Linked DNA regions of Homo sapiens: all the other regions are linked to region 1. The links come from fine-mapping of genetic effects on gene expression. A gene starts in region 1. Each other region holds a variant in brackets. All regions are shown on one strand. Distances are from middle to middle. Region 1 holds the start of SPP1 (secreted phosphoprotein 1). Region 2 has its middle 55 kb from the start of MEPE. Region 3 has its middle 50 kb from the start of SPP1.

Region 1 (8,184 bases):
AAAAGAAGATAAAAATTCAGTTCCTCAGTTGCACTAGCCCACATTTTGAGTGCTCAATAGCCATATGTATCTTATCAGCCAATGTAGAAATATAATATTAAAATCATTGCACAAAAGTTCTATTGCTGTAAGGTGCCAAAGATGTAAATGAAATGGATTTTTCTTTAGCCAAGTTATTTATCTGGAAAATACTGATAATATGCTACTGCAAAGGAGTGGAAATTGCTCTGAGTAAGTATCATCTGATCTGCTGAATCATCCAGGGCCAATCATTACATTTCCCTGTCACTGAGAATGAGAACTCTGGGGGTTGCACAGAGTTCCTTCTGCAGCCACCTAAGGGGTGGATGAGTAGAGAGAGAACCAGTCAGAAGTACTTGGAGTTTCTCTCATGGCTGGCTCTAACCAGAGGAGCTTAGTATTGGGCTTCTCCGAAAGGTTTTGCTGAAAGAAGGGGTTCCTTGCTTTAAGAAGATGAAAAAACAGCCGGGCGCAGTGGCTCACGCCTGTAATCCCAGCACTTTGGGAGGCCAAGGAGGGTGGATCACGAGGTCAGGAGATGGAGACCATCCTGGCTAACACGGTGAAACCCCGTCTCTACTAAAAATACAAAAAATTATCCGGGCGTGGTGGCGGGCGCCTGTAGTCCCAGCTACTCAGGAGAATGGGGTGAACCTGGGAGGCGGAGCTTGCAGTGAGCCGAGATCACACCACTGCACTCCAGCCTGGGCGACGGAGCGAGACTCCGTCTCAAAAAAAAAAAAAAAAAAAAAAAAAGAAGGCGGAAAAACAGTGAGACCAGATGAGTTCAGAGTTTTTCTCTTCACTTTTTCATATCTATCTATCTATTCTCATGACACATGTAATACAGGCTCAGAGAGAATGGATGTATAAGTTACATTTATAATTTTTAAAAACTAATATGAAGAAAATAAAGGTAAGCAAAATGAATAGACTAAAAACCACCCAGTAATCCTAACACTCACAGATAACCAGTGTGTATTTTCAGGCATATATCCTTAGAGACTTCCCCAATTTTTTACTAGCTTTAAGTTTCTGGGATTCTAGAAGGCTGAGCCTTGAGCTCTTCACGTATTTCTTAAATTGTTATAGCTCCACGTGCCTTCTAAAATGCATCTTTGCCATATTTTCGTTTATTAAAAAGACGCTAATTCTTGCCTCAAATAGTATGACCTCTATCTTCTCTGGAGATGTTAATTTTTCTGGTTTATTATTAGGATTCAACACCTGTATTTTCAAATCAGTTGAAAAACAGACACACACACCCCTCCACACACAAACGAACACAGAATACTTCTTTTAATGTCTTCATTAAGCAGTCTAATTGCAGTGACCCCCAAGGCAGCTCTATTTTGGCCTTTATTCTGTTCAACTGGAATTGAACTCTGTGTGCCTTTTTGTCCAAGCTTCTGGGGACAATGCCCATTTGTTGTTTGGCTGGCACAGTTTCATCTGTTGTGGAGGGGTAGGTACATCTTTAGTGCTGGTCAAATAATTATAATAAAGAGTTTGGTTGGTCTTATGTTTGGTTAGAAAATGTGATCTAACATCAGCTGACAATCACAATAGATACAAACAGCACACATAGACTTTCTTTTCACAATGGGCTTCTCAGCTAATATCTCAGACAATATTGTGAATATTATGGTCATACAAACAGTTCTGACTAATATCCAATGTGAATTTTAAACTTAGCAATCCACTAAACAAAGCAAAAGCTGGAATTTTCTGCTTTTAGATCAGTATGTGGACTAATGGAAAAAAAGTCACACAACTTCATATAACTTATCTTACATGCGATAACTCATCATACATGCCTAGATATTATTATATTTAAAATATCTGGGTTGGTTTTATAAACTTATATTTATTAAAAACTATACTGTGCTTGGTACTGGCCTAGATTCATAGCAGGCAGTCAATCAATACTTGTAAACCAATGGATTTGACTGAGAAGATAAGTAATATCGCAGCAAATACGTTTCTTGCACCTCTCGCCATAATTGAGTAAATGATTTAACTATATAAAAACATAAAAGATGCTTACCTGCTTTTCCTCAGAACTTCCAGAATCAGCCTGTTTAACCTTAGAAACAGAAAAGATGAAGAAAGATTACAAGAATGTCCTCCTAGCACATGGAAGCACACAATTCAGTTATTTTCAGGAATTTTCTTTAAGATGCAACTGTACTCACTGGTATGGCACAGGTGATGCCTAGGAGGCAAAAGCAAATCACTGCAATTCTCATGGTAGTGAGTTTTCCTGCAAAATATTTCATAAGGAATAGCTGACATCTTCATAGGTTACAACAGTGATACCTTTTTATACTACCACATTACAAAATGATCACAAATAAAATATATTTTCTATAGAATCTTTTCTACTTCTTAGAGATGCCTTTTCTTTTTAGTATTATAGTCTTTCAAGTTAATATTTATATTGCCACCTATTATCCATCTTTCACTATTAGGCAAGGGAAAGGGAAATTTTGCAAGTCTGTATTTATTCAACTTTAAAATTTAGAGTTCCAGAAATTATACCATTACTACCTTATATATCTAGCTCTCTAAACCTACAAACAGATCAACAGTAACTTAATTATATTAATAAGCTAGTATGGGAATATTTTTTAGAGAAGAAAAAACTCACAGAAAAAAATGAAAAAAATTTGCTTTATCCATTTTTCCAACATGTACTTTAAATGTGACTTTTAGCTTAATTATCAAGTAGGTGCTACTTAGGTGAAATCAAACTATCTCTGAAATTTGTTATTTAAGTAAGATGTTCTAAAAATTTGAAATTCAAAGGAAAACATTGAAAATAGCCAACAGCTTTTCTATTTGTAATAATAAGCCTACACAGTGTCATACAGGTATCTTGGTGAATATTTTAACAGCTAAATTTAGCAGTGGCATATTCAGAAAGGGTTTTCTTCCCCTTAAAAGTGAGATACATCATTTAAAAAATAGCATTGTAATTGGTTTAATTAGCATAAAAGATCCCTTTTCTTTTAAATTCCTGCACAGTCACCCACTGAAAATTATATAGGTATAATTATTCCAAAGGGGAATTTAATTTTACTATTTTCTGATTAGCATCGGTGGTTTCCGTTCTTTTGAGGACCCAGTGGAAGTATTTTTAAGTTTTAAATTTGATTGGCATTCAAAATATCTAGACACCTTTGTTCCAGGAGACCTGCAATGTATCTAATCTGCTTATTAAAAAGGCTAGAAAATTTAAGTCTGTTTAACAGCATTACAATTAAAAATATTTTTCCTTAGAATTTGGACTTCCCCATGAAATTCAGCTGAATGCACAACCCAGTAGCAAACTGAAGCTGTACCTTGGTCGGCGTTTGGCTGAGAAGGCTGCAACTGGCCTGAGACGAGTCTGGTCCCGACGATGCTGTGCTCTGCCTCCTCCTGCTGCTGCTGACAACCAAGCCCTCCCAGAATTTAAATGCTGCTGCAGACATCCTCCACCAACACAGGGAGGCGGAGAGATTGTGTCATGAGGTTTTCTGCCACTGCCCAGCCCACCTGCTCCCACACTTCCCCCTCTGGTTTTGTGGTTAAAACAAAAAAAAACAAAAACGCACACACACAATCTACAGTTAAAACATTACTTATGTACAATATCATTAACTAGCTTTTTCATTTACGGGATGGGCATTCAGCATCCAGGAAGAGCACTTAGGGATCCCATGAAAAAGGGAGAAAGTAGGGAAAAACATTAATGTAAAATTAAATAGAATGGATTTTTGTTTCTTTCGGTTTAAGTAACATAAAGGTAATATCTGCAACCACTCTTGCCTGTATGATTGTACTTATTGAAGAGCCAGAAGGCTATTGTTCAAGCCTGCAAGGAGTTCAGAAAACTTGCCTCTGTCCTTTACTACTCAAGCTTAGCTTTGTGATTTCGAGTATGCAGTAGCTTGTTACTTAGACAAATGGCACTAGTGACATTAAAATATAAAATTCTATATGAAATAGAAGAATGGTAATTTATTCTAGATGTTGCAGAAGTAAAGCAGTTTCTGACTGAGAGCAGGATGACTGCTTGAGAGGGCTGCTTCAGGAGCCAGACCGTGGTTCTGAATTCCGCTGTGTCACTGCTGACCTGTGCAACCTTGGGCAAATCGCCCAGCCTACCTATCCTTGTTCCCTCATCCATGAAATGCAATACTATTACCTAGGTCATGGGGTTTTTGAGGGGTTTAAATGAATTAGTATGTTAAACTAGCAATGCTTAGCACATATTAGATGCAAATGCTCTGCGTATCTTAAGGACTATATGTGTGTTAACTATTATGAAATTTTTAAGAGGGGCAGGCAGTCACGAATTGTAATGTCCTTTAAAAGAACAGGTTATTAAAATGAGAGTAGACGTAAGATCTTTAAATTGTATGCATCAATAAGGAAATTTTGCACATTTCTAAAGGAACAGATTCGATTTTGGAATCATCTTTTTTTCTAGTTTTTCTCCCAAGGTATGTAAAGTAGGCCACTTAAAAAGAAAAACATTTTTAAAAATTTCTGTATTAAAAAACACTTTACTAGGTATTTAAAAGGTGTCTGAATGAAAGAAAATTACAGGGAAAGTCCGAATATTAGAGCAGAATTCAGGGATAGCAGAGCTCTGGGTCCTTTTAAAATATTTAATATTGCCTTGAGATTACTTATCTTCATTTGCTTTCTCAGTTGTGAAATGCAGATTGCACTATTTATTTACCTTACACCTTTATTGTTAAGACTTGTGTGTAATTGAGATGAAAAATAAATGGTCCTATTTATTATTAGGTTGCTGCAAAAGTAATTGTGGTTTTTATTAGTCCTAAAGTGTCAGCTTCCTTTTGCCAAATATTACTTTTAATATAAATATAGATTAAATAATGTCTTGCAGTGATAGTGTATAGCTAATTCATAGGTTTCATGAACATTTGGTAGGGGGAAATATGTCTCCCTTAAATTGGATGTATTCCAGATGAATTGATATGATTGGTTTGTAGGTAATAAGCACCCATTTTAATAAGTAAGATGACGACTATCTCTATAAAATAGAAAGCACACAGATTATAAAGTTGCAAAATAGACTTCTTTTTTCTGCTTCTAAAAACTATTTTTTTCCTTTAAACATACCCGCATAAGCGTGTCATGTTGTCAATTTAGTGGAGGGAAGTCTGAAAATTCTAAAAACAACAAAATTTCCACAGGATTTACTGTAGTTTACTCTGTGCCCACGGGAATGATTCAATATGAAGCTAGAATTAATTATAGGAATAGATTATGCTGGAGCCCAGCCATCTTGAGATGAACCATACGACCCTTTACAGGACTCTTCTGGTCATAGCTCCGCAGTGCCACACGATGGCAGCATTTCTGAAAAAAGATTTCAGACCACAATCTGGTTCTACCAATTTTCTTAATTCCAGCGGGATAGAACACTCCTGTATTTAATGACAGGACTATATACAGCTGTGGAGCTCTCCATTTCTTGGAATGCCAGGTGAGGAAATATTTCCCAACAATGACCCGCTATGCAATCAGGGACAGAGACCCAGAGAACCAAAGCGTTCTTGTTTTGCTCTGTTGTTGCCTTAGGCAATCCCAAGTTGACACTATTGTCTCCTTCCCGACTTCTACACTCATTCAAAAAGTTCCTAGTCCCAAGGCCTCTCTCAGAGAAAAGGCTTGTGAATTCACGGGTAAAGAATGTGTCTGGGATGCTTTGGAGTTGAGAAGATAAAGTGATTTATAATGGGAGGCAATTCTGTAAAGTAGGAAATGGATGCTGCGTCATTCTGACTATCGGGGAGGTCATGTTTTGGGATGTTTCTTGCTGTTTGCACTCAAACATGCTGCTGCTGGTTGTTTTTTCTGAGTAGGATTTTCTGTCAGAATTAACATGTTAAATGATTTAAATCACAGTGGCTCTATCTGTAATATTTCCAAAGTTTCCATTCTTGATTGGCTAATGATTGGTTGTTAGAATCAAAAGGTCAAAATGCACAAATTCCCTATAAATCTTGTGAGTGGAAAGTAAAAAAAGTTTAGTTGTCAAACTAGAATGCAAAGAGTAATTTGTGATCTTAAATTATACACACTAAGAGGACACATGGAAACAAATAAAGAGCCTTAAGGTCTTTTTCCTGAATTACATGAAAATTCCCATATAATAAAAAGTAAGTGTTCAATGTCACTACTTTGGTGGACAACTTTATTAAACTCACTTCCAGTTTATTTGAACATTTCTAATTATATTTTACTTAGTAAAGTGTAACCAACTATTTCAGTGTTTTCAGCTCCACAGGTAATTATTTTTTTCCCTTGAGTCAAGGTTCAGACATGACTCTGATATTTTGGTAACACCACTAATCTGTCATAAAGAAGTTTGGAATTAAAGCTAATCGGAAGCCTAGCACCATTCATCATATATAGACTGGGAAAAGGGGCATTATTTATCACAGGGTAGCAAGCAAAGGTGGATGATAAGAGGGTGCTATTTTCAAGTTCAGACATGAAATTAGAGCATTTCAGAAATACAAAAAAAAAAAAACAAAAACACCATAAACTCTTTTATTCCATTGCTCAATAGCTTAGACAACAAAAGTCAGCTCCTGACAAAGTGGTCGTACCATTGGTAAACATTAGTTTCAATTTAAAACAAATAAAAAAAAGTTTTCCTTTAGACACATAGAACTGTTATGGAGTAAGTGCTCAATAAATTGTTGGTGATTGCCCACTCAGCCCTGCATCTATGACACGAATTCTGACCTTATAGTTTTTGCTTATGAATACAATGCATAGGCACTATGCTTGAATTCAGAGTATATCTCATATATTGATATCTAATATCTGCCTGTACTCAAGAATCTAGCATTTATTTCTTCATTAAAGTAGTATTAGTAACTCTGAGGACATTCTAATGCTCTTTAAATGATAGACTTTTTTAAGGTAGACTTAAATTACTAACTTTTTTTTCTTAAATGACACCATTCTTACCCTCATGGAGCCCATTTGTTCATGAAAATCAACTAGGAAATTTGAAACTTGAGTAACCAATGAGATTAAGGGGGTGTGGCTAAACAGTAAACTTGGCAGCACCCTGGGTAGAGAAGGTATATGGTAGAGACCCTGTGTCCACATTGGAGTTGAAGGGATGGGTATTCTGGGATTGGATCCAAACAGAAAGTCCCCCTTCCCACTCAACATCAACCACAGCAGCATAAACTCGAGACCTATAACAACCTGGGGAACAATAGAGGAGGCTGTAATCAGAGAGGATCCAAAGAGGGAGATAGAACAAGGTGGAAAAGCACAAATAGAAAGTCTAGCAGCTGCAGGAGGACCTTGTTTGTTCAGAAAAAGACATTTTGTGGCAATAAGCGGTCAGTGACAGTCATTTTGCAGATATATTTGAGGGGAGAAAATCATTCTCCGAAATTGGTTTATGAGAATTCTTGCTTAAAATCTGATGTTTGAGTAATTTTTGGTAGAGAATCTATCATAAGGTTGATATGAAAAGGTGACAATTTCAGTGCAAAAGAGAAAACAAAATCAAAAGAAAGGGGAGTAAAACTAGACAACAAAAGCAGCTCAGTCAGATATTTTTCTGGTTACACTTGGCTAAGGTTTTTTGTTTCGACAATTCTTGTCAAGGCATAGTTTACATTAATGCCCCTATCCCATAGCATAACATTTATGTTTCTTAAACCTGTAATTTAAAATATTCTATATTAAAATTTGATTTCTTCTTTAATGTTTGAATTCCTCATAGAGTGTAAGTTCCATGATATGCTAATCCCTCTGCAGATTATGTGCCAAAAATATTTATTCAGTGAAGAAATTTAGCTCAATTATGACATGTATATAGTTCTTACATAAATTGAGTTATTCTTGCTGATTATTTTCTGTTGCCTTCATAAAGCCCCAGATTAAACATATTTATTTATTTTTGAGACAGTGTCTCACTCTGTCACCCAGGCTGAAGTGCAGTGGCACGATCTCGGCTCACTGCAACCTCTGCCTCCTGGGTTCAAGCGATTCTTGTGCCTCAGCCTTCCAAGTAGCTGGGATTACAGGCATGCACCACCATGCCCAGCTAATTTTTTTTTTTTTTTTTTTTTAGTAGAGATGAAATTTTATCATGTTGGCCAGGGTGGT
Region 2 (8,184 bases), 87 kb after region 1:
ATCGTTGTGCTTTGTGATCACAACCAGTTTCTCTGCCACCAGGTAGGCAGAAAAAAGCCAACACCAAACTGCCCAATCATGGAGATGTCTGCACCAGCCTGAAGAGCCTCCATGCATGCTTTAGTACCAGACTTGGCAATGGTTCTCAAATTATTTATGAGATCAGCTTTGGTCATGCCAATGCCTGTGTCTACCAAAGCCAGGGTACGTTCCTGAGGGTTGGGGATGATGTCAATTTTCAGCTCTTTACCACTGTCCAACTTTGAAGGGTCTGTCAGGCTCTCATAGCGAATCTTGTCCAAGGCATCAGAAGCATTAGAGATCAACTCCTGAAGGAAAATCTCCTCGTTGGAATAGAAGGTATTGATGATGAGGGATATGAGTTGGGCAATTTCTGCCTGAAAGGCAAAAGTCTCCACCTCCTCCTCTCCATGGTGCACTTCCTCAGGCATCTTGAAAAGAAAAGGCTTACACGTACTGGAGAGCAATGTGAGCTTGCTTTCTGATACCCAGGCAGCACCAACGCTGTGCTGGAGTGACTTGAGAGCATCTTTAATCCATCTTGAGTTAATTTTTGTATAAGGTGTAAGGAAGGGGTCCAGTTTCAGTTTTCTGCATATGCCTAGCCAGTTTTCCCAGCATCATTTATTGAATAGGAGATCTTTTCCCTGTTGCTTGTTTTTGTCAGGTTTGTTGAAGATCAGATGGTTGTAGATGTGTGGCATTATTTCTGATGTCTCTGCTCCATTCTATTGGTCTTTGTCTGTTTTGGTGCCAGTACCACACTGTTTTGGTTACTGCATTATTGTAGTATAGTTTGAAGTCAGGTAGCATGATGTCTCCAGCTTTGTTCTTTTTGGTTAGGATTGTCTTGGCTATACATGACCTTCTTTGATTCCAAATGAAATTTAAAGTAATTCTTTTCTAATTCTGTGAAGAATGTCAGTGGTAGTTTGATGGGAATAGCATCAAATCTATAAATTACTTTGGGCAGCATGGTCATTTTCACAATATTCATTCTTCCTATCCATGAGGATGGAATGTTTTTCCATTTGTTTGTGTTCACTCTTATTTTATTGAGCAGTGGTTCATGTTTCTCCTTGAAGAGGTCCTTCACATCCCATCTTAGCTGTATTCTTAGGTATTTTATTTTCTTGGTAGTGATTGTGAATAGGAGTTTGTTCATGATTTGGCTCTCTGCTTGTTTATTGTTGGTGTGAGGAATGCTTTTGATTTTTGCACATTGATTTTGTATCCTGAGACTTTGCTGAAGTTGCTTATCAGCTTAAGGAGTTTTTGGGCTCAGATGGTGGGGTTTTCTAAATATAGGATCATGTCATCTGCAAACAGAGACAGTTTCACTTCCTCTCTTCCTATTTGAATACTCTTTATTTATCTTGCCTGATTGCCCTGGCCAGAACTTCCAATACTATGTTGAATAGGAGTGGTGAGAGAGGGCATCTGTGTCTTGTACCAGTTTTCAAAGGGAATGCTTCCAGCTTTTGCCAATTAAATATGATATTGGCTGTGGGTTTGTCATAGATAGTTCTTATTATTTTGAGATATGTTCCATCAATACCTAGTTTATTGAAAGTTTTTAACCTGAAGAGATGTTGAATTTTATCAAAGGCCTTTTCTGCATCTATTGAGAAAATCATGTGGTTTTTGTCTTTGCTTCTGTTTATGTGATGGATTACATTTATTGATTTGCATATATTGAACCAGCTTTGTATCCTAGGGATGCAGCTGACTTGATTGTGGTGGATAAGTTTTTTAATGTGCTGCTGGATTTGGTTTGCCAGTATTGTATTGAGGATTTTCACATCAATATTCATCAGGGATATTGGCCTTAAGTTTTCTTTTTTTTATTGTGTCTCTGGTAGGTTTTGGTATCAGGATGATGCTGGCTTCATAAAATGAGTTAGGGAGGAGTCCTTCCTTTTCAATTGTTTGGAATCATTTCAGGAGGAATGGTACCAGCTCTTTATACCACTGGTAGAATTCAGCTGTGAATCCATCTGGTCCTGTGCTTTTTATGGTTGGTAGGCTATTAATTACTGCCTCAATTTCAGAACTTGTTATTGATCTATTCAATAACAAGATTTATTCTATACTATAAACACCTCTATGCAAATGAACTAGAAAATCTAGAAGAAATGGATAAATTCCTGGACACATACAACCTCCCAAAACTAAACTATCGGGGGAACCCACCCCCGATAATTCAACATTATTTCACGTAGGTTCTTTTCTATTTCCCTAAGTGTCTGCCAGTCTGAGAAATAAAGGCAAAGAGCACAAAAGAGAGAAATTGTAAAGCTGGGTGTAAAATAATAATTCTTGTTATTGACTTCTTCCTGGTTTAGTGTTGCGGGAAGTCAGTGACCCCGAATGGAGGGACTGGCTGAAGCCATGGCAGAAGAACATAAATTGTGAAGATTTCATGGACATTTATTAGTTCCCCCAAATTAATACTTTTATAATTTCTTATGCCTGTCTTTACTGCAATCTCCCGAACATAAATTGTGAAGAGTTTATGGACATTTATCACTTCCCCAGTCAATACTCTTGTGATTTCCTATGCCTGTCTTTAATCTCTTAATCCCGTCATCTTTGTAAGCTGAGGATGTATGTCACTTCAGGACCCTGTGATGATTGCGTTAACTGCACAAATTGTTTAAACAATATGAAATCTGGGCACCTTGAAAAAAGAACAGGATAACAGCGATGTTCAGGGAACAAGGGCGATAACCATTAGGTCTGGCTGCCTGAGAGCTGGGCAGAACAGAACCATATTTCTCTTCTTTCAAAAGCAAATAGGAGAAATATCGCTGAATTCTTTTTTTCAGCAAAGAGAATGCCTTCCTAGGGGAAGGTCTCTGAAATGGCTGCTCTGGGAATGTCTGTCTTTTACGGTTGTAGGTAAGGGAAGAAATAAGCCCTGGTCTCCCATAGCGCTCCCAGGCTTATTAGGACGAGGAAATTCCTGCCTAATAAACTTTGGTGAGACCGGTTGTCCGCTCTCAAACCCTGTCTCCTG[A/G]TAAGATGTTATCAATGACAATGCGTGCCCGAAACTTCATTAGTCATTTTAATTTCACCCGGGTCCTGTGACCTCACCCTGCCTCCATTTGCCTTGTAATATTTTATTACCTTCTGAAGCATGTGATCTCTGTGACCCAACACCCTATTTGTACACTCCCTCCCCTTTGAAAATCACTATTAAAAACTTGCTGGTTTTGTGGCTTGGGGGGCATCACGGAACCTGCCGACACATAATGTCTCCCCTGGACACCCAGCTTTACAATTTCTCTCTTTTGTGCTCTTTGCCTTTATTTCTCAGACCAGCAGACACTTAGGGAAATAGAAAAGAACCTACGTGAAATAACGTTGAATTATCGGGGGTGGGTTCCCCCGACAGTTTAGTTTTGGGAGGTTGTATGTGTCCAGGAATTTATCCATTTATTCTAGATTTTCTAGTTCATTTGCATAGAGGTGTTTATAGTATTCTCTGATGGTAGCTTGTATTTCTGTGGGATCAGTGGTGATATTCAATTTATCATTTTTTATTGTGTCTATTTGATTCTTCTCTCTTTTCTTCTTTATTAGCCTGGCTAGCGGTCTATCTATTTTGTTAATTTTTTCAAAAAAATCAGCTCCTGGATTCATTGCTTTTTTGGAGGGTTTTTATATCTCTATCTCCTTCAATTCTGCTCTGATCTTAGTTATTAATAATTTTTAATTTGATGGGATAAATTGTAAGTCAGGAGTTACACATGGGCAGAACAGGAAGGAAATGAAAACGTACTGAGTGACTGTTACATGTTACATGTTACAGTATTAGCTCATTTAATCCTGAGAACAGTACTGTAGGGAAAGAATTATTATGCCCATCTCACAGATAAGGAGTTACACAGACTTGGCCCTTCATTATTTTCAACTGTGTGATCCTAGGCAAGTGATTTAACCTTTTTAGCCCTCAGTTTCCTCATTGGCTAAAATGGAGACAGTAAAGTATGCAGGTCCTAGGGGTATTGTCTGGATTAAATTCAATAACAGACATTAAAGTTTTAGCCCAGCACCTGCCTTATGACAGTTTATACATACTGGCTTGCTATGTGCCAGGTACTGGCTGAGAAACTTAAATTTATCATCTCATTAAATCTTCACACAAATGTTATGGTAGGCACTCAATTGTTATGTTGTTCTTACAAGTAATAACAAGCTTTATTAATTATTTTACTGTGGCTCAGAGAGATTCTTACTCATCCAAGATCAATAAACTAACAAGTGGCAGAACTGATATTCCAATTTAGCTTTATTTGAGGGCAAAAGCCAGACACTTTTAAGAATATCTCACATTAGAAAATGATGGGAATACTCATAAATTACCTAAGCTATTTCATCTCCCTGTCTCTGATTTGGAGACCTATAAGAGAATAAGCCACTGCTAGGTACAGGATCACATTTTAAAAATCGTGACGTATTTAAAAAATGGAGAAAAATGAAAATGTGATGTGGATGGAAAGAATGTGTGTATGAAAACAATCAAGGTTGTAGCTGGAAGAGGGCCTACAATATCAGTGATACTTGAGCATCTATGATTGTGCCTAGTCTTTCAGTATGGCATTAAAATAAAGTGCATATTAACATGAGTGCATATGCCTGAGCATTGAGAATCTATGCAACATTATGTCTCATGTCTCATTAGACAGGAGACAAAGTGAGGCACATGAGAACATACAATCGCTTTACTAGTTTTAAATTCCACACCTAAGTTATAAACCAGATTTCTGCAACTACATGCATGTGACACAATTATAAATATATAGGCAGCATCTAATGTACTTTTATTAGGTACCCCTGTGAATAAATCCACTATTTTTGGATGGAGACTTCTGCTTAGGGTGGAGGCATGAGGAAGAGAAAGAGGAAGAGATGTTTGCTCAATTACCACTGGGTTCATTTTAGAATTTAGGATTTTATTTTCCTAATGTGGTTTGCAAATTTAGGGACAGATGTGAACTTTGCTAGACGAGATTTTGAAGACTATCTTGGAGAAGGATTGAGCCAGGAGAAGAAATATGAACTTGGCATCTGACAGGGAATTTGAAAGAAAATAGAAATGTTTAGTGTGTTTTATTATTATTGTTTTATTTTCTGTGTGGCATATGTGTTTCTGTCACCCATGAAATTGTCATCCAAATTTGCCTTTTGGGAGCTAATGCTTGAAAGAGTAATTGTTGTCTGTGTGTTTTTGTTTGGTTTGGTGGAAGGATAAAGAGGGCCCTACTTTAAGGTGGGGGAGAACACACTCACCTACGTATGACTACTTTTTCCAGCCTGCAAAAGCCATAGCCTTGAACCTGTTGTACTCTCAGTTTATAACTCTTTTCCGTAAATACTTATTTCTGTTTATACAAGACCTTTCCACCTCTGAGAATATGATACAATTTCCCTGAGCAGGTTAGTACAAGTTAGGCAAAGTGTTGGGTCAGAAAACAAGTGACAACAAAACGTGGCATTATGATGAACTTAAATTGACCCTGATTGGATCTGGTGTATGTGGCCTCTTGGAGTGAATTCTGTCTTCATTTGGTACATGGACTGAAAGTTTGTGGGGCCCTTGTACTGCCCATATCTTTTTTAATTGGGAATCTCTGTACTGGTAACTGGAAACAAGTTTTACTCCTTTTTGGTGATTCCTCCTGCAGACATCAATTAAACTTGACTATAGCACTAACTTGCTTAGTTAAAGCAAGAAGAAAATTCCTTTGCTCTTGTACTCTCTGCTGGGGCCTCTGGTGGATGCTGAATGCCCTGTTGACCTCTGACAAAATCTGCAGCTGGTGAATTTGTTACCTATTCTCCCGGTTGGGTCGGGCCCAGTGGTTCTCCTCTGCTGCCTTAACCCTACCTGGGGTTGCTGGCATTGTAGGCCCCTCACATCTCTGCCATGTCATCCATGCAGCCTTAATCCAGCCTGCCTGCTTTATGACGTCATTCACCATGGCTGTCCCTCAGCAAGATTTCCACCCCTCTGGTCAGCTCTCTTCTGTGCCTACTCTGGGGCACATTGGAGTTTCCGGATTTCTCTCTCGCACTTCAGAGCTTAGAGAGGAGAACAAGTGCTAATCTGACTGTCTGTCTGCCTAATCACAGCACACTACTGTGTCTCTGTTATATCCTGGGGAGCATCTTTTCGGATGTTATGTTTCCTTGTGAAGCTTGATCTCTTCTTGACTGTTCCCCGGAAAGCCAGGCAATTATTCCTTCTGCTCTAGGAAATGCCCAACCCTGTCATGAAATTTATCTGGGTTTTCTATCTCTTTGCCTCTTGGGCTCAAGTTCAGGGAAGTCTGACTGTACATTTCTGTCTTCATGTATCCTTGTTCCTCTCCCCCGAGCTTTCCTCCTTCCCTCCTTCCTCCACCTGCTACACGCAACTTCACATTTCATCTCCCTCACTCCAGCTTTATTCTTGGCTTTATTCCATGGTGTATGAGGAGACGGGTGGAAATAAAAGGATGTACTAACAAAAGAACATCAATTAGAAAACATTTAGCAAACGTAGTGTACTTATTTCATGTTCAAAGCACATGAGAGAACTGAAAGATAAGAAAGGACAAGTTCATCATTCTCACAGACCTTACGAAAGTCTAGTTGGAAGATGTGCCCAGCGAACACTAAGAAAGACAAATGAGGGTAGACCATACAATAGAAATGGGCAATATTTTGAGAGATTTGGAGAGGGAGATGCCTAATGGAGGGTGAGAGTGGAGAATTTTTGAGGGAAGAAAGGAGAAGTCATAGACAGCAGGTGGAGAGAAACGGGTTGGACAAGGCAGAAAGAAAGGCACGGTGACATGGTAGAATGACAGTGTAACCGTCTGTGCTGTGCAGTCACGTGTGGCAGGAAACACATCTGGAAGTCTGATCGGGTCTCAGGCTCTCTGGCCTCTGTATCGCCGTCTTATCAGAAGAGAAAATGTAGGCAAATCTTTACCAACCCGATCATACTTTCTCTGCTAATCTCTTATCTCTAAGTAAATTGTTTGCTTGTCCAATTAAAAATTCCCACCCCAAACTTGCATAGTTGGATAGTTAGAACCCTTCTCTTCTGACTCATGAGGGAGAGAGAAATTATAACTTAGTTTACTTTTATAGAGCTATTTGTGGGACTGTCTGGTTTGCCTGTGAATAATGGTTCTTTTCTTTCTTCGTTTCTCACCAGCCAGTGTGGTTTGTGATTTAATAGCCAGGCAGAACACTAAAATTAATACTTGGTAATATTTTAAGCCCAAATGAGGACAAGAGAGGGGGAAATTTTAAGTTATTAGTTTTTTTGTGTGGGAGCTTACTGTCTCCTTTGGAAAGCATTTAGGCCAGGCAGAACCTCACCATTAGTTTTTTGTTTTTGTTTTTTTCAAATGAGCGTGAAAAAGGAAATGTCCCTGTTCCTGCTTTATTTTTCCTTTAAACACAAATCAATTCCTAGATGAGAAGATAGGGTTTAAAACCCAGTTCCTGGCACAATGAAGTGATGGCTTGCAGAGATCAATTTACTTAAAAAAAAAAAAGATACAATTCTGCTTCTTTTGTGAGTAAAGTTTTTTTGTGTGTGTCAATGGAAGAGAGACATGTTCTTTTTGTGTGTGTGTAGGTATTGGGGAGTTCAGGTAAAGAAAGAGTGTAAAAAATAAGACTTACATAAGATACCTAAGCAGGTGCACTTTACCAGAATAAGATTTGTGGCCACCTTATTTTCCCTTTTTCTTTAATGCCTTTGAAGGAAGCTAATTTTTTTTTTCCTAAAAGAAAACAATTCTTCCTCTTGCAATAGTAGAACCAAGAAGAAATGGACACTTGACCACTCTTTGCTTTGGGGAGGAGCATTTATTTTTTCTAGCGTCTGCTAGGAAATATTCAGATAATACAGAATATGCATTTTGGAAAGATGTGGGCCTGCACATATTTCCCATTATTGCCTCTGATGATGTACTGTGTACAATCATGTTAATGGACTTGTCATAAAATTGAATAAATGATTGTAAGGAATATTTATTTTTTGTTATTTGTTTAGATTTGCTTTTCATTTCTACTGTTAAAATCCTTGATAGAATTTGGATCTGTGTCCCCACTCAAATATTATGTTGATTTGTAATCCCCAATGTTAGAGGGCCTGGT
Region 3 (8,184 bases), 50 kb after region 1:
TCACAAGAAACATATTAAAGGCTCTAGGAATTCCTAGAACAGTAAAGAGACATTAACCAAATATTTAACAAAGTTATTTTGGCTGCTAAATCATGGAACATCTTCTTAATATCTTACTGAATTGCTCAACAGCTTTGTGTTCCTTTTTGGGAGTGGTAATTTAGTATCAGAGAACAATTCATTTCTAAATCTAGCAATGGGCTAAGAAGATAGAAGGCTCCCCATTATTTTTCCAGGAGTTTCGTCTCACATAAGTTAAGGTGTGCTCACTACCTCCTAGTATTTCATCTCCCATAGCATTTTAATTTTATTTTTCTCCTACACCTTTAAAATTTACTTTTTAAAATTGACAGAGTACATTGCATGTTTTTATCAGATACAACATGATGGTTTGAAGTACATATGCATTGTGGAATGGCTAAATCTAGCTAATTAACAAGACGCATTACATAACATCATTATAATTTTTGTGTTAAGAGCACATAACGTCCACTGTCTTTACATTTTTTTCAAGAATACATTATATCATCATTAACTACAGTCACCTTGTCATAAAATAGTTCTCTTAAAATTTATTCTTCCTATCCAAGTATAATTATGTATCCTTTGACCAACTTCTTCCCATCTCTCCTCCCCGCCAACCATCCCACCAGTAACCACTGTTACCACTGCTCTCTACTTCTACGAGATCAGCTTCTCTAGATTCCACATATCAGTGAGATCATGAGACATATGTTTTTCTGTGTCTGGCTGATTTCATTTAACATAATATCCTTTCGGTTGACCCATGATGGTTGCAAATGGCATTTTACGTTTTTACGGCTGATTATTTCATTGTGTATATATACCACATTTTCTTTATCCATTCATTCATTGATAGACACTTAGATTGATTACATGCCTTTCCCACAACATTTTTAGGCTTGGGAAATCAGATGAGGAATAGACTCTGGTATATGGATATCAGAAGTCAGAGGTGCTGATTCTGACACTAATAACTGTAACCTCTGAACTCCTGTTACCTTCTCTATAGGATGGAGCTAATCCCTGCTTTTTAATTTAATATCAACAAATATTAAAAGCTAGTCCTCAGGAAATTTTTCATCTAAAGAAATAGTGGGGCCAGGTGCAGTGGCTCATGCCAGTGATCTCAGCATTTTGGGAAGCCGAGGTGGGAGAATCACTTGAGCCCAGGAGTTTAAGGCCAGCCTGGACAACACAGTGAAACCCTGCCTCTACAAACACACACACACACACACACACACACACACACAAATTAGCTGGGCATGGTGGTACACACCTGTAGTCCCAGCTACTTGGGAGGCTGAGGCAGAAGCATCACCTGACCCCAGGGAGGTCAAGGCTGCAGTGAGCCATGATCACACCACTGCACTTCAGACTCCAGCCTGGGCAACAGAATGAGACCCCGTGAAAAAAAAGCAAGAAAGCAAGAAAGAAAACAAGAAAGCCAGAAAGAATGCAAGAAAGCAAGAGAAAGGGAGAGAGAGAGAGAGAAGGAAAAGAAAGAGAGAAAGAAAGAAAGAAAGAAAGAAAGAAAGAAAGAAAAAGAGAGAAAGAAAGAAAGAAAGAAAGAAAGAAAGAAAGAAAGAAAGAAAAGAAAGAAAGAAAGAAAGAGAAAGAAAGAGAAAGAAAAAAGAGACAGAGGGAGGGAGGGAGGAATGGAGGAAGGGAGGAAGGAAGGAAGGAAGAAAGACATGATTGATAGATGATTAAAGGTATAAAAATAGACAAGAAAATATCAGCAAGTGTTAATTGCTTGTTATTAAGTCCTGTGAGAAGAGTTAACATAAGATAATGTGACGGTGTTTAGATGACTGCTTTTGACTGAATAACTAGGGAAAGACTCTAAGGAGGTGATATTTCAATTGAAATTTGAAGTACAGGCAGGAAGATCTCGGGGATGAGCACCTCAAGAGAAAGAGCTACCGGGGATCTTAACACGACTTTGTGAAACAGGATTGAAGGAGAGAGGGGAGAGATTGGCTTGGAGAGGGAGGCAGACACCAGGTCAACTATGGCCTTGCAAACCATACTCTTTGGATTTTATTTCAATTACAATTACAAGGCACTAAAACATTTTAAGCATGAGGAAAGTGACATCACATACCCATCTATGCCATTGAGTGGTTGTAAAGAACAAACTAAGAATGTGCATTAATCAAAATTCCAGTGGGACATACTCAGGCCAGGTAATTTGAGGAGAATTATTTAAAGAGACTATTATGGGCAGGTTTTAAGGAACAAACCAGAGATAGTTAATTACCCACTGGCTACTAATAGAGGGGAACCCATTACCCCTTAACCCTGAAGGGGTAAGATAGTTCAGTGGCTATCTAAACCCGAGGAAGTTGTTAGGTGGTGAATTCCAGCGGAAAAGGGCTGTAGACTGGAGGAAATGGGCATGGCCAACCTGCAGCTCTGTGAAAAGAAGGAGCCACAACTTCACTCTCTTCTGCTTCCCATTGGGCAAACCCAATCAGGAGCCAGAGGCAAAGTCCGTTGATCAAGATCCACACAGACAATGATAGATGACGGTGGAGGATGGATCTGGTAGAACAGCAGAAAGGATCCAGCATAGCCTTGCTTCTTGACATCCACTCTCATCCTTTGCCTAGGTGACAACTTTGTGTTCCCAACCAGTTACCATATCTTCAAGGCCAGAACACTTGCAACCTAAAAATGTTAGCCATCAGCAGTGCTCTTCATAAAAGGAGTGGGAGGAAACATGGGGATAAGAAACAATGATCAGAGGCCATAGCTGTTAAAATCTCTGCTTCTGTAACTGGTTAGTATGTCTAAGTTGTTAACCACAGCATCTTTCTTCCAATGCCCATTTCATGTTTCCTTATTCTATGAAAGTATCTTGGTTGAATGGATTTTTAACCTGATTGCCTGAGTCAAACTTTAGTCCTACAGGAGCTGAGCCATTTGGTGGTCCTATCTTTACTACACTGCCACAATTTTCTATTGCCAAGGGCCGTGGGGTAATAAAGTCCTAAGTAGCCACAAACCCCACTGGGGTTCCATAAATAATCCTCCTCACCCCCACTGCACATTTGTTTCTCCTTGGTAATCAGGATCAATCACCCAGCCAGTACATGCAATAAGCTCTTCTCTGTCTTTGCTTCATCAGCCTGAAATGGCCAGTGGGCAATCTCAGTTTCTAATTCAATGGAACTATTATTGTATTCCCTTAGGGATTCGTTTCTCCTTCTGTTACTATAAACCCACAGAATCCAAGATTGCATGGATGGGAAGAAAACATTCCCCAAAACAAATATTTGGTATAATAAAGTCCATTCTCACCTCCAGCCCTTGAATCTTGGACATATGGTTTCCCAAGCATGGGAAACCACTTGTTTAATGAATATGCTGCATCATATAAGAAGTTATTTCCTTGAGGAACACTGAGAAGTGATTTCCTTGAGGATAGATTTCCACGATGGAAAGGAAATGAGAGGTTCTAAGAGGCGGGCTAGTGGCTTGTACTATAGTATAACCTGCCTTTGCTGGTGTGTGGTGATTAGGCCTGGTGGAACCACCATCAATAAATCAAGCGTGATCAGGGTGAGGAACAGGAAAGAAGGAAATTTGGGGAAATGGGGTGAATGTCAGGTGGATCAGAGAGATACAGTCATGGGGGTCAGGTGTGGTATCAGGAATAATGTGGGAGGCCGGATTGAAGTCTGGGCCAGGAACAACGGTAATTGTGGGAGACTCAACAAAGAGTGAGTACAGCTGAAGAAGCCGGG[G/A]AGCAGAAAGTATATGCATCAGGTATGAGGCAGAAAATAGATTTTGGAAGTTATGAGAACTGTAGAGAGTGAGTTGAGCGTAGTTTGTGATTTTGAGGGCCTCTAAAAGTATTAAAGCAGCGGCAGCCGCTGCATGCATACATGAGGGCTAGGCTAAAACAGTAAGGTCAAGTTGTCTGGACAGAAAGGCTACAGGGTGCGGTCCTGGCTCTTGTGTAAGAATTCTGACCGCGCTAACCATGCCTAGGAAGCAAAGGAGTTGTTGTTTTGTAGAAGGTGCTTGGGTTTGAGAGATCAGTTGGACACGATTGGCAGGGAGAGCACATGTGTTTTTATGATAATTATGCCGAGATAGGTAACAGATGAGGAAGAAATTTGGGCTTGATTGAAGTAATGGGGGCTGTCTGTGAAGCTTTGTGGCAGTACAGCCTAGGTAATTTGCTGAGCTTGATGGGTGTCAGGGTCAGTCCAAGTGAAAGCGAAGAGAGGCTGGGATTAAGGGTGCAAAGGAATAGTAAAGAAAGCATGTTTGAGATATAGAACAGGATAATGGGTTGTAGAGGCAGGTATTGAGGATAGGAGAGTATATGGGTTTGGCACCATGGGGTGGATAGGCAAAACAATTTGGTTGATAAGGCATAGATCCTAAACTAACTTGTAAGGCTTGTCTGGTTTTAGGACAGATAAAATGGGGGAATTGTAAGGAGAGTTTATAGGCTTTGAAAGGCCATGCTGTAGCAGGCGAGTGATAACAGGCTTTAATCTTTTTAAAGCTTGCTGCGGGATGGGATATTGGCGTTGAGTGGGGTAAAGGTGATTTGGTTTTAATGAGATGGTAAGGGGTGCATGATTGGTCGCCAAGGAGGGAATAGAGGTATCTTATACTTGTGGGTTAAGGTGGGGGGATACAAGAGGAGGATGCAAAGGAGGCTTTGGATTGGGAAGAAGGGAGGCAATGAGATACAGCTGTAGTCCAGGAATAGTCAGGGAAGCAGATAATTTAGTTAAAGTGTCTCAGCCTAATAAGGGAACTGGGCAGGTGGGGATAACTAAAAGGAGTGCTTAAAAGAGTATTGTCTAAGTTGGCACCAGAGTTGGGGAGTTTTAAGAGGTTTAGAAGCCTGGCCGTCAATACCCACAACAGTTATGGAGGCGAGGGAAACAGGCCCTTGAAAAGAAGGTAATGTGGAGTGGGTAGCCTCCGTATTGATTAAGAAGGGGATGGGCTTACTTTCCACCGTGAGAGTTACCTGAAGCTCGGCGTCCGTGATGGTCTAGGGGGCTTTCGAGGCGATCGGGCGGTGTCAGTCTTCAGCCGCTAAGCCGAGAGGATCTGGGAAGGAGTCAGAGAGCCTTGGGCCAGAGTTCCAGGGGCTCTGGGAGTGGCTGCCAGGTGAGTTGAACAGTCCGATTTTCAGTGGGGTCCCACACAGATGGGACGCAGCTTAGGAGGAATCCCGGGCTTCGGGCATTCCTTGGCCCAGTGGCCAGATTTCCGGCACATGTAGCAAGCTCCTGTGGGAGGAGGTTCTGGAGGAACGCCTGGCCGCTGCGGTTCAGGCGTTTGGAAGTTCTTGTGTGCTGGAGATGTGGCTGGGGTTTGTCTCACAGTGGAGGCAAGGAATTGCAACTTTTTTCTATTATTGTACACCTTGAAGGCGAGGTTAATTAAATCCTGTTGTGGGGTTTGAGGGCCGGAATTTAATTTTTGGAGTTTTATTTAATGTTGGGAGCAGATTGGGTAATAAAATGTATTTTGAGAATAAGACGGCCTTTTGACCTTTTAGGGTCTAGGGCTGTAAAGCGTCTCAGGGTTGCTGCCAAACAAGTCATGAACTGGGCTGGATTTTTATATTTGATGAAAAAGAGCCTAAACGCTTCTGATTTGGGATGAAGAAAAAGGAGCATTAACCTTGACTATGCCTTTAGCTCCAGCCACCTTTTTAAGAGTAAATTGCTGGGCAGGAGGGGGAGGGCTAGTCACGGAACGAAACTGTAAGCCAGACCAGGTGTGAGGAGGGGAGGCGATAAAAGGATTATAGGGTGGAGGAGCAGAGCCTGAGGAAGAATTGGGATCTAGCTCGGCCTGGTGAGGAGCAGCCTGGGGAGGAAGGGAGAGGTCAGATGGGTCTGTAGAAAAGGAAGATTAGAAAGACTCAGCGACGCTTCGGGTTGATACTGAGGGGACAGGCGGGAGGGAAAGAAGGAAGATTTGGGACGAGTTGCACTGGGCACAGAGACTAGGAAGGGGCTGATGTGTAAAAGAATGCCTGGACGTCAGGCACCTCAGACCATTTGCCTATTTTACGACAAGAATTATTTAGATCTTGCAGGATGGAAAAATTCAAAGTGCCATTTTCTGGCTATTTGGAACTACTGTTGAGTTTGTATTGGGGTCAAGCGGCATTGCAGAAGAAAATAAGGCATTTAGGTTTTAGGTCAGGTATGAGTTGAAGAGGTTTTAAGTTTTTGAGAACACAGGCCAAGGGAGTAGAAGGAGGAATGGAGGGTGGAAGCTTGCCTATAGTGAAGGAAGCAAGCCTAGAGAAAAGAGAGAGTAGAGAAACAGAGGGAAGGGGTTTGGGGGTTCTTACTTTCCAGAAAAGTGGGAAAAGGGGTTGGGGCACAGAGATAAGAGGTCAGGGCATGGAAATAAGGGATGGGGCGCAGAAATAAGGGGTCGAGGCATGGAAATAAGGGGTTGGGGCACAGAAATAAGGGGTTGAGGTGCAGAGATATAAGAGGTTGGGGCACGGAAATAAGGGATTGGGGCGCAGAGATATGAGGTTGTGGTACTTGCCCCTCCGCCAGAAAAGCGGGACTTGCTGCTAAGGGTGAAGGAGAAGGGGTTGAGGGGTACTTGCCCCTCCCCCAGAAAAGCAGAGAAGGGGTAGAGACAAGGAGAGAAGGGGTTGGGGTACTTGCCCCTTTCCCAGAAAAGTGGGACTTGCCGCTAAGGGTGAAGGACCAAGGCAGGCGTCCCTGCGTGGTCTGACACCTTTGAAATGTGGGTGAATAATCAGAGAGGCGTCCCTGCATTGATTAAACACCAAGGGAAGGCTGCCTTCCCAGTCCGTGACCGGCGCCGGAGTTTTCGGTCCACGGATAAAACATGTCTCCTTTGTCTCTCCCAGAAAATGAAAGGAATTGAAATTAAGAGAAGGGAGAGTGAAGAGTGGAAAGGAGAAAGTGGTTGAGGGACAGTGAGAGAGGTTGGAGAAGAGAGTAAGAAGAGGCTGCTTACCTGATTTAAAATTGGTGAGATGTTCCTTGGGCTGGTCAGTCTGAGGACCTGAGGTCGTAGGTGGATCTTTCTCACCGAGCAAAGAACAGGAGGACAGGGGATTGAGCTCCCAAGGGAGGTCCCCCGATCCAAGTCACGGCACCAAATTTCATGCGCGTCTGTGTGAAGAGACCACCAAACAGGCTTTGTGTGAGCAATAAAGCTTTTAATCACCTGGGTGCAGGTGGGCTGAGTCCGAAAAGAGAGTCAGTGAAGGGAGATAGGGGTGGGGCCGTTTTATAGGATTTGGGTAGGTAAAGGAAAATTACAGTCAAAGGGGGTTGTTCTCTGGCGGGTAGGAGTGGGGGTCGCAAGGTGCTCAGTGGGAGTGCTTTTTGAGCCAGGATGAGCCAGGAAAAGGACTTTCACAAGGTAATGTCATCACTTAAGGCAAGGACCGGCCATTTACACTTCTTTTGTGGTGGAATGTCATCAGTTAAGGTGGGGCAGGGCATATTCACTTCTTTTGTGATTCTTTAGTTACTTCAGGCCATCTGGGCGTGTATACGTGCAAGTCACAGGGGACGCGATGGCTTGGCTTGGGCTCAGAGGCCTGACATAAGGGATGTACAGATGTTTCTACTTAAATTTGCTTGTGCAGATTGGTAAGGGCATCAACGAAAAATTAACTGTTCTTCTAAAAGTCTTGGGAAGGAAAGAAGATAAGGAGACAGGAAATGGAACAACTAGTCATAGAAGAAAGGAGAGAAGGAGGAAAAGCTCAGGGAAGAAAGGTTGGGCAAACTTAGAAATTGAGTAAGGTTTCAAGTGACAGAGAGTAGGCAATTCAGGTCCAAAATCCCTTATCTACAATTCTGAAATTATGAAAGCATGAAAACAAACATTTTTAAAAATTCATTTGATAGCAAAACCTGACCTGAATTACTGTGAAGGTTTTCATAGTCTTTCTCTTGTGTAGCGGGAATATTTCTTTGTTTTACTGCAATAAGGTTAACATTGTGGATGAAAAAGAGTCAAACTTTGTAAAATATTTGAAAGGATTTATTCTAAGCCAAATATGAATAACCAAGGCCCGAGGCACAGTCTCAAGAGGTCCTGAGAACATGTGCCCAAGGTGGTTGGATTACAGCTTGATTTTGTACATTTTAGGGGGACAGAAGTTACAGG

What was found. PIP is the estimated chance that this variant, and not a neighbour inherited with it, causes the effect.
Region 2: its variant is the best candidate, but not a certain one, in a credible set for the expression of SPP1 in whole blood (INTERVAL, PIP 0.76).
Region 3: its variant is the best candidate, but not a certain one, in a credible set for the expression of SPP1 in testis (GTEx, PIP 0.51).

Annotation. Positions count from the first base shown.
Region 1 is chr4:87,970,982-87,979,165 of GRCh38, reverse strand. It overlaps SPP1 (secreted phosphoprotein 1), which reads right to left and starts at 3,452. Exons shown (of 7, transcript NM_001040058.2): 1 at 3,366-3,452; 2 at 2,217-2,284; 3 at 2,069-2,107. The coding sequence starts at 2,270. It overlaps LOC124900730 (a long non-coding RNA gene), which reads left to right and starts at 5,397. Exons shown (of 2, transcript XR_007058172.1): 1 at 5,397-5,527. RefSeq lists cis regulatory regions at 3,457-3,466, 3,501-3,510, 3,685-3,700, 4,138-4,146, 4,213-4,221 and 1 more, enhancers at 3,479-3,549, 3,312-3,811, 4,174-4,194 and promoters at 3,366-3,579, 3,369-4,456, 3,456-5,698.
Region 2 is chr4:87,884,111-87,892,294 of GRCh38, reverse strand. It overlaps the pseudogene HSP90AB3P. Among named protein-coding and RNA genes, the nearest start is that of MEPE, 55 kb to the right of the region's middle. RefSeq lists an enhancer at 1-265. The variant A/G (reference allele first, on the strand shown) is at 3,041.
Region 3 is chr4:87,921,234-87,929,417 of GRCh38, reverse strand. No RefSeq gene overlaps it. Among named protein-coding and RNA genes, the nearest start is that of SPP1, 50 kb to the left of the region's middle. RefSeq lists enhancers at 6,657-7,183, 7,184-7,711. The variant G/A (reference allele first, on the strand shown) is at 3,774.